Linked DNA regions of Homo sapiens: region 2 is linked to region 1. Evidence: fine-mapped expression QTL. A gene starts in region 1. The other region holds a variant in brackets. All regions are shown on one strand. Distances are from middle to middle. Region 1 holds the start of SCAF11 (SR-related CTD associated factor 11). Region 2 overlaps ARID2 (AT-rich interaction domain 2).

The links. PIP is the estimated chance that this variant, and not a neighbour inherited with it, causes the effect. A credible set is the group of variants that fine-mapping cannot tell apart.
Region 2: its variant is the best candidate, but not a certain one, in a credible set for the expression of SCAF11 in lung (TOPMed, PIP 0.51).

The regions. Positions count from the first base shown.
Region 1 is chr12:45,988,261-45,993,649 of GRCh38, forward strand. It overlaps SCAF11 (SR-related CTD associated factor 11), which reads right to left and starts at 2,314. Exons shown (of 15, transcript NM_004719.3): 1 at 2,093-2,314. RefSeq lists silencers at 1,388-1,457, 1,858-1,957, 2,298-2,347 and enhancers at 1,608-1,657, 2,018-2,227, 2,036-2,749, 2,468-2,667, 2,678-2,747 and 1 more.
Region 2 is chr12:45,811,903-45,817,291 of GRCh38, forward strand. The region is part of intron 4 of ARID2 (AT-rich interaction domain 2); the gene reads left to right. Among named protein-coding and RNA genes, the nearest start is that of ARID2, 85 kb to the left of the region's middle. The variant A/G (reference allele first, on the strand shown) is at 2,753.

The sequences.
Region 1 (5,389 bases):
TGACTTTCTTTTTATTACTTTTATGCCTGCTACTCTCTTTAATTAAGGTGCTACAACTATCTCTGATATACTTTAAAAGTTCAGTATTAAGTTGATGGGTAGTATAGTACTGTATTTTCTGATTACTAAAAGATGTTACTGATGATGAATCAACAGTATCATGTAACTGCACTGATTCATCCTATCTCTGCTGAATAAAAGCACAGGTTTTCCAGAAAACTGTCTAAGCTCTAGTTGGTGCCAAAGGACGATAGAGAGCTAAGTAACTCCTGAAAAGTTTCGATCTTAACACACTAGCCCTATTACCACATGAAGGTATTAACAGAAAAAATTAAAAAATTATCCGTAAAATTTTCTCCATGACATGTTTTCTGGCAACATATTTAGAAACTTTAAATTTTCTTCTACAGTTTTCTTCCCCTTTATACTGAAGAATGTCTTTAAAGCATGAGTATACTTACAGTAAGCAAACATTCAAATTTTACCCCAGTGAAATCTTAAAATGTACTCAAACTCTCAGGCAAAAAGTTCACTATCTGAATGTGAAAAACTGAATGACTGTTAAAATATCTGCAAGCACCAAAAAATATTATAGCTAAAATGCAGCTACCCTAAGAACTGTTTTTAAAAAACTCACATTGCATAAAAAATATAAATTCAGATTATCCGATAGGATAATATAAAACAAAAGAAATCCAAAGACAGTTTCAAGATTTCATTTCTCTTGCTTAGTTAAAACAACAAAAACAAAAGGCCCATGAACTTTTTCTTGCATCTTTTAACCAAAATAGTGACATGATCAAGCCAACTGCCAAAGAAACAGGAAAGAGAAAGCAATTGTTTAGAAACAGACTTGATTACATGTCAAAATTTTAATACAATTACTAATAAAATACAAAAACCAACCGTTATTTTAAAATGTACTGCCCTGATATTCTGCTGCTGAGGTAGGTGGTGATATGTAGAAATTAATTTTTCTTTTAAAACGAAAAAATAATGCATTTATTAATATGCTTTTCCCAAAATTCGGGGAAAATTCCCAAATCGGAGAAAAAAATTTAACATCAGCATCTACTACACAAAGCATTAAAAACATTTTTCAGCAGTTTTGCTTAAGTATCTTAGGTCAGTGGTAGCATGTTAGCCAAAATGTAATCCAAAATGAATGAACAACAGTCAGCTGGTAGACACTGTATGTAATACAATACGGAAATATATTGGAAGTATTTCAAAATTCAACATTTGAATCCGTGAATGTCTAAATCAAGTACTCTAAATCAGGCGTCTACTTTTGAAACAATACTTCAAAATACGTGTTGGTGGCAAGACCGCCAGCCATCTGTAGGAAATCTTTTTAATGGTTCAAAATTCCTAGGTCTCAGAAGGGGCGACTGATTAGGCTAAATTTATATCTCCCGGCCCCGTAGTTGTCAGCCCAGGTAGCGAATTTAAAACACTGGGGGTGGATGAGTAGTTTGAAGTTCAGATCAAGGAGTGAAAAAGGCTGATGCTTAGAAGCGCCGGCTCTTCCCCATTCGCGCACTCGAGAGGTCACGGCGTAGTAAAGTTTGGTTTCACTAGCGGGCTTGGACGCTCGCGACCAAAGTCTCCCAAGAAAAGCCGACACCGCGGTCGGGAGCGCCCGGAAGCTCAGCAGGACACGTTTCCACTGCAGGGAGGAGGGTGTCTGTGGCGGTTCTGGCGTGGAGCCCCTTCCCCCCCCCCCGTAGGACCCTGCACCCGGACGGGGACAGGCTTCGCCAGCTAAGGCGGCGGGAGACGCGTAGGCCACAAGGAGGAAATGGGACAGAGTGCGACAGAGAGGCGGCGGCGGCCCAGGGCCGGGCCGAGCCTCCCTCGCGGGGCAGCGAGAGGGAAAGGGGCCCTCCCGGCCGCAGCCTCCCCCACTTCGAGAGGTAGCTCCAACTTTCCTCCCAGCGCACGACGTCGCACGGGCCGCGCGAGATTCCGAAACTTTGTCAGCCCTCGCGTCGCCCTAGGCCCGCTCCAGCGCTCTGCGCCGGCCGCTAACCCTCGTCTCTCCCAGACAGCTGCCCAAGCCCATCCACCCCGCGGGTCGACCAGTGTTTACCTCAGACCGAGGTCGAGGCGCTCGGTCCGGCCGCGGCCCCACAGTAGGTTCCCAGGTCCCAGTCACTCCGCTGCCAAGTTCCCCAACATGGACTCCTTCGTCCGCTTTGTGGTGTTACAGGGTCTCTAGGACACTGACTCCGCTGGCTCGGTCCGGAGGCGGCGGCGAAGCAGGGAGCGACCCAGGTTGCGCTGCTCCGCGCGGCTTAAGCCACCGCTACTCCCCCTTCCCCCGCCTTGTCTAGCCTCCTCCCTCCCCTCCCCTCCCTGCGCGTCTCCCTCCTCCTCCCTTCCCTCGCTGTCGGCGCGCTAAGGTGACGACGGCGGCAGCCGGACTCGCCACATTCTGCTTACTCGCTCGCTCTGGCCCTGAGTGCATGTTCGTAGTACCCAGTTGGGCCGCAGGGGGGCGCTGGCAAACTGCTGTTTGAGACCGAGAAGCGTGGTGGGTGGAGTCACGTCACGCGGCCTGTGAGCGGGAGGAAGGGCAGCTGCGCTGGAGGGGCCTTCTGGGAAACGTCCTTCCAGCACCGCCCTTCGCCCACACTGCGGATGGTGCGCATGCGCAGCGCGTGGACTTTGGCCTCTGCCCTCCTTTGGCAGTTTTACAGGCTGCGTCGCGGAGGACAATGAAAGAGGCTTTAAGGGAACTGGACAGGAAGGATTTTGCGCAGGGTGTGCTCCTTATCTTTATGGTAATCTGATATTGAAAAGAGTGTCCGCATGTTTGCGGTGGATTGAGTGTTCACCTGGCTGCGCTGCCCACCTGAAATGCAGCCTGTGGAGTGAAGAGTCGGCAATTTGGAAGCCCACCTTTCCTCCTTTCTGGTGGGCATTTTTTTAGATGCCAGGGGGAGAGCTTTCCCGCCTGACTCCCCGAGCCTAGGGGCTTTCCCATGTCTTAACCCCACATCACAAAATTAAATTTGGGCCAGGTGCGCGGTGGCTCACGCCGGTAATCCCAGCGCTTTGGGAGGCCGAGGCTGGCGGATCGCTTGAGCTCAGCAGTTCGAGACCAGCTTGAGCGACGTATTAAGATCTCGTTTCTACAAAAAATAAAATTAACCGGCCGTGGTGGCGCGCACCTGCGGTCCCAGCTCCTCGGGAAGATGAGGTGGGAGAATCGCTTGAACCCGGGAGGCGGAGGTTGCAGTGAGCCGAGATCGTTCCACTGCACTCCAGCCTGGGCGACAGAGCGAGACCCTGTCTCAAACAACAACAAAAACTTTATCATTATTTACTTAAAAGGCCTCCGCGTTGTGGTTAGATAGTGACGTGTGTGCCATCCTCCACTTTTTCCCCCGGCGGGTTGTTAAATGTTTTGTTTTACCTCGGAGGTATTTTGACTTTTTCAAAGTCACTGATTATTTAACCTCCTAGTTTCTCTTCTCGTCGACTGCAGCAAGCTTCCGGTTGCTCTGCCTGCCCTCAGTGTCCCCCATCTACCAGCTGACCTTCCAGTCCTCCCACCCACGCCCTTGTCCTGCTTGCGGCTCCCGCAGGACTAAGCTCTGCTCCCCGCGCGCGGCTCACCCAGGTCCCAGTCGCTTTCAGCCGCGCGCTCACACGTTTTCCTGTCGCCTGCCCCCGTTCTGTTCGCGCGTGCTGCGCTCTCCAGCCACCCTGACGCCTGCCCGGGATGAGTTTCCTCCCCACTTTGCCGCGGCCCCGCCGACCGACCGCTTCACTGCCGCCTTCCTGCATTCTCGCAGACTACGTTGCGGCGTCCCCTGCTCCCGCCCTGAGGACGTCGCTTTTCTGGCACTTTCATCCTATGCATTCTGTTGAGTCTGCTCACTGTCTCACACTGTGAGGATTGGGACAGTGTCTTATCACTTTCATAACAGCGTCTGGCACTTGCTGAAGGAACACATGAATGGCGGTCTTGTCGCTGTCAAAGTCTTTGGAGTTTTTCAGTGTACTGTTTTTGATATGGGGTTTGGGAATTTAGGTGGCTTTACTGTATTTGGGATATTTGAGGGGAAAATGAGCTAGAGGCGTTAAAATGCTTTCTTCTGATGGAACAACAAAATTCTTATGAAGGACCTTTCCCTGTCAAAATCAGAGCAAATAGTAAAGGATATATACTATTTGGATATAAAGAATGATTATAAAGGATGATTGTTAAGAGAAATAGTGAAAATTAGTGTGGAAAGCTATAACCAGATCAACATTTATGAGCCATCCAACAGAATAAGGGTGTAGCTTTTTTATGTATACAATCTCTAGGATTCACTCTAGAGAGTGTAACTCCTGATATGGACTCCTGGTGCAACATGCTTCTGTGTATGTTTTATATTTTAAAAAATCTATATATATTTAAAATCTAAATATATTTTTAAAAATCTCAGTTTTGTTTTAGGAAAGTGTTTTTTCTCAAAATTTAAGCCCAAATGATAAAATCTGCCAAATAGAAAACTATTTTAAATTGATAATAACAGTATAGTTTCATCAAAACTAAAAATACCAGATCTTTTGATGTATTTGTTTCCTAGCAGAGAATTAAGTTTTCACGTTCTTACTGTTGGCCTCCTAGATATCATGTGAGCATGTCTTAAGGAAAAATGCTCTTAATGCCACTGTGGTTTCTACCTTCATGTGCAAATAGAAGAGAGTGGTGGTTTGTAATAGGCCATTCTTTCCAGAGAAAAGTTCATGTGTATTTCTGTATATGCAGCATCCTCCTTATTATGTTTGGATGTAAAGATTTATTATTCTCTCTGATGTTTTCATATTTTTTAAATTTACAATATAATAAAGAGGTACAGAGTTCTAAATCAATAAAAGATGGGCTATAAAATGGAGGAGTAAAGTTGATATATGAACCATCATTGTCAACATTTTAGATTTGATTTTAACTGTAAAAAGCACAAATGATATGCATCATAAAACAGCCTTAAACTGAATGTCCACTTGGTGTGTTGCACTTTACCAGGCACTTAAAATATCAGTCCTGTCACATAGCAACAGAAACCCACAGTGGCACGTTTAAAAATGGGTAATCAACGTATTGATTTTGATGGAGCTTTTTCAGAAATAACTGCTATTTTAATTTAACTTATAAATAGAATACAATATCAAGTTCAAATTAAGGGAGGAAATCATGCTGTAAATATACTGGATTGAAAAACATGGTTCTGGCCAGGCATGGTGGCTCATGCTTGTAATTCCAGCACTTTGGGAGGCTGAGGTGGTTGGATCACTTAAGGTCAGGAGTTCGAGACCAGACTGGCCAACATGGTGAAACCCCATCTCTACTGAAAATACAAAAATTAGCCCGCATGGTGGCATGTGCCTG
Region 2 (5,389 bases), 180 kb before region 1:
ATTTTCTAACATTAATGGGATTTCCAGCATCAGAATTCTCAGAAATGTTTCTGATTATTCTATTTTCCTGCCATGGTAGCAGGAAGATTTTTTTTTCACTTGTCATGCTTGTAATGGTTATAGAGGAATCCACAGCTTGAAAAAAATCAAGTTGGAAAAAAATCAGCGCGAGTGTTGATACTCTCTTGAGTGGAGTAGACGGGCTCCAGTTTTCAGTGGCTCTGGAGGTCAGGACTGTGATGACTAGGAAGAGAGGTCTAAGGAGATACACATCTTTGTTTTTCCACTCACTAACATTTGGCCTAAAAAAAAAAAGAGATACTTGTTTTTCAAGCTATGTTCTTTATAAAAATTATAATTATTCTAAATATTTATTATCATTATTATTATTTACTGGTACTAGTTCTGTACTCTTACAGGTTATCCTTAGATTTATACTGTCTCATTTGTGGACTATCATCAGTATCATCAACTTTTTTTTCGTATTATCTATTTTCAAAGTTTCTTAAAAGTTGAATTTGACTTCATATTTCTTCCCTAATCAGTAATGACTGAAGAAATAGAATCTTCTTTTAGAATCTGCGATCTCCATTAGAAGAGGCTTCATCTGATGCTTTTGTATAATTGGGGTAGGGGTGAAGCAGGGAGTGCCAACAAAACCTAGCTTTGTTTTTAATGAATAGTTTTTACTGCAAGAACCAAGAGTAAAGGAGAATATTTTAAGTCACCTTTAGAAATGCTTGCTAATAGTTTATGCTGATAAGATAAAATGGGGTGACTTGTTAGGTGATGTGCTCCTTGTTTCTAAAAAGAGCTAATGACCATTATCTAATTCAAGGATGTTAAAAAAGATACTCCTACATCGAATGAGATGTTGTGCTAATGACCTTTAAAGATCATTTTCAACTTACAACTCTGTGTGATCCCTGTATTACAATAATAGCAGAGCTATTAATCCTTGTAACTTAAACAGACTTTGGTGTCCGCTACTACTGTTCCCAAACAAACACTTTTCTATGTTTGGTCTTGTTTAAAATAGATTTTTTTCCTGAATCTGTTTTTTCCCATTTTCTATTGATCTGCTTTGAGAAAGATCATGTGAAATATTTTTGGTATTTCGGAAGCCTATAATGAAAGTTACTGATAGAGCTACACAGGTTAAAGGAGTGATAGAATTGCTTAACCTGTTGTTAAAACAACCCTTTTCTGATATGCTATTATATGTGTGATTTGTTTTAAGAGAATCTGAACAGTTACATTTTATGTGTAACATGTGTAATGAAGTCAGGATTGGAGATTCATGAAGAGGAAGAAACTGGGAACTGATGGGGAACATCAGATTACAGAATATCTAGTTCATACTGAAAAGGGGTAGAATTTCAGGGCAGCATTTATACTTTATGTTTTTCTAGAAAGAGCCATAGCAACATCATGACAGTATTCTAAAAATTGACATGATTATCAATATATAAAGCAAATAAGTCATTAATTTTTCTTTTAATGTGTTATTAAGGAAAATAGAATAAGCTCCGTGTGTGTGTGCGTGCATGTGTTCTAAAAAAAAAAAAAAAACCACCAAAATGAAATTATCTAATATTAGATTGAGAGTATTTAAAGAAATTTACTTAGAACTTTGAGAAGATATGTATTTACATATTTGATCATACAGCCTTATTCCCCTTGTAGCTTTGAATAAATGTATTTATCCAGAGATACTTTTATTGTTGACATTAAGAAAAGCTGTTCTAAAATATTTTGAATGGTAGTATAATAAATTTCAGTGGTCAGTAGTGCTAGAATATAGAACATCGTACACTGATAGAATGTGGGCCTGAATTTGCCTTTGAGGATATTGACTACTTTTGGCCAATAACTTTAAGTGGCAAAAAAAAATATTGTGGGTTTTGTTGCTTTAAGCTTTAAGATTCTTCAACATTGGCATCAAGTACATGGTGGTTTTTATCATTCATTTGCATAGGTTTTCATACTGTTTTTGACATTACATACCTAATACTTCAGTTTCCTTCTTTCTCTGTTTTTTTCCTTGGTATTGATTGGATATAATCATTTCTGCAGAATTATTAGGTGGATTATTATTATTATGATGATTTAATCCAACTCAATCATTTTAATAAAGTGAAGCCAAGTACCCGGTCCATTTGCATTTTTGGTACTTAAATTTTCGGTTTCAAGAAGGAAGATATAAAAATTTTTTATTAGCTATATTTGAGTAAAGATTTTCTTTAAGCATTGCATATTCTAACAAGACATTTGGACTACAACAATCACTGCCAATATAGATGGATAGAATATATTGTAGAATTTCTACAGTGTACATAAACAGCACTCCAGGAACAACTCTCCCTTTCTTCTAAATTGAAAACAAAGAGAAGTGACTGCCTCAGATTAAATTTGTCAGTAGTGACCCACTTGTATAAATTTTGAATCAAGAATGTTGAAAATATGGACGGGCGCGGTGTCTCACACCTGTAATTCCAGCACTTTGAGAGACCAAGGCTGGTGGATCACCTGAGGTCAGGAGTTTGAGACCAGCCTGGCCAACATGGTGAAACCCTGTTTCTACTAAAAATACAAAAATTGGCCAGGTGTGGTGTCGCATGCCTGTAATCCCAGCTACTCAGGAGGCTGAGGCAGGAGAATTGCTTGAACCCAGGAGGCGGAGGTTATAGTGAGCCGAAATCCACAGCACTCCAGTAGCCTAGGCGACAGAGCAAAACTCCATCTCAAAAAA[A/G]TAATAAACTTCCCTCCTCATTCCAGTTATAAAATTATAGCTACTCAACCATATCTCCTTGAGGGAATGAAAGGAGGATCTTAAAATTTTATAAGCATTTTCTCCTACATAATTATCTTAGGAATCTTTACCAAGGAATTTTTAATTCGCCAAATGATTATAATAAATTGGTGCTTTCACTGTTATCTGAACTCCCAAATGAAGCAGACTTTGCTGTTAATGTATGCAGTCTCCTGTCAAATGAAAGCAAGCACATCATGCAACTTGAAAATGATCCTAAAATCATCACTTTACTACTAAATGTTTAAATATAATTAAAGGATATTTCATAATTGTTATGTTTATCTTACTCTAATTGAAGATGTCTTTGACAGAGTCATTCTGGTAAGGATGTATTGAATGGAATATCTGTCATTTTACAGTAGGAAATAGCACAATTCTAAGATCATATTGAAAACATAAACTTTAGGACTGCGACAGATAAGGAATACGGGTTCCACATTTTTTTCTATTCAGATTTACCTGAAAGCTATGTGGAATATAAAAATGTAAATTAATTATTGCTAAGACTTGGCTTATCATCAGTCCAGTTTACAGTGTAGAATATAAAAATCTGCTCCTATATTCATAGAAGTTTCATTACTTTTTCTCCAGATATTTATTTTATGTTACTTATGAGAAATTTCATTTATAAGGATTATCAAAAATGAACAATATATTCTTATTGTCAAGCTTTAAATATTGTAAACAATCTGTGTCATAGCCATTAAAAACTGTGTTGTGGAATTTCTTCATTATGTTGGAGACACTGCTAGAATAGGTTAGAATTGAAGAGGTGTATCTCTTCAACTGTCTGCATTTGGAAATGAAATTCTTTACTTACATGATATTCTTCTGTGGTATGTTGTGACAGTAGATTTCTACTTGCATCCTACTTAAAGAGATTGTGTGTGTGTGTGTGTGTGTGTTTTTAACTTTTAAAAATATTCAGATATTTCCGAAATATTCTTTTGTTATTGTTGTTAAGAGACAGGTCTCACTTCGTCGCTCAGGCTGGAGTGCAGTGACTTAACCAAAGCTCACTGGAAACTGGACCTCCTGGGCTCAAGCAATCCTCCCAGCTCAGCCTTCCAAACAGCTAGGATTACAGCACACACCACCACAACTAGCTAAATGTTAAATTTTTGGTAGAGACAGCATCTCATTATATTGCACAGGCTGGTCTTGAACTCCTGGCCTCATGTGATCTTCCTTCCTCAGCCTCCCAAAGTGTTGGGATTATAGGCATGAGCCACCATGCCCAGCCTGAAATATTCTTGAATGTTTAAATTTTAGTTTTTTGCCTTTTCCCTTAAACTTGTGACAGCTTTATTTGAAAAAATGTACTTGTGATATTTGTCTCAGGACATAGTTGCCAAGGTCTAAACTGCCCCGTTAGGATTCAGTTATTTCTAAAAATACAACATTTTTTATATATGTGAATTATGATTATATAGTATCTTAGTGTTCTGTAAGCCCGTTTTATCCCATCTTCAAAGTTTTGTAAATGTTTTAAATTAATTCTCCTGTGGAAAATCTTAGTTGCTTTGGTTTAGGCACAAAAGCATGAACCATAAAAGTAAATATTTGTAACTCAGACTTCATCAAAATTAAAATTTCTGTTTAAAGACACTTAAGAAAATGAAAAGATAAGCCACTAACAGGGAGAAAATATGTGCAAAGCAAATATGAAACAAAGGACTCATTTAGAGTATTTAGAACTGACAGTATTAAGTGCTGGCCAGGATGGAGAGCAATAGGAACTCTTTATATTGCTGATGGAAATGCAAGATGTTACAGCCACTTTGGAAAACAGTTTCACAGTTTGTTACAAAGTTAAGGATACACTTATGTGTGACTCAGCAATCCCACTTCTAGGTATTTATGCCAGAGAAATGAAAAAAATATGTCCCGACAAAATCCTGTCTATGTTTCTAGCGAGATTTATTAGTACTCACCAATAATTGGAAACAATCTAAACGTCCCTCAACTAGGGAATGGATAAACAAACTGTGTTTAGAAAGGTATGGACTACTGATGCACTTATCAACATGGATATGAATCTCAAGAGCATTTTGCTAAATAAAAGAAACCAGACAACAAAAGACTATATTGTGTGATTCCACTTATTTGGCATTTTGAAATAAAATGATAGGAAAGTAAATTTGATTTGTAGTACCTAGTGGTAGGGGATGGAATTGAGCATGAGAAACTTTTTGTAGTGATAGAGATACTCTATATCTTGACTGTGATGATTAAAACTATACATCTGTCAAAACTTAGAATTGTAGAACTAAAATTAGCATGGGTTTTACTATGTTAATGATATTGCAGTAATTTGGAAGAAGTCCATTGAAATGCAATAGTAAGAAGTGTAGATTAGTCTGGGCACAGGGCTCATGCATGTAATGCAGCACTTTGGGAGGCCGCAGCCGGAGAATTGCATAAACTCGGTAGATTGAGACACCAGCCCGGGCAACATAGGGAGACCTCTCTCTACTAAAAATAAAATTAGTTGAGCATAGTGGAGCCTTCCTGTAGTCCTAGCTACTCAGGAGGCTGAGGTGGGAGGATCACTTGAGCTTGGGAGATTGAGGC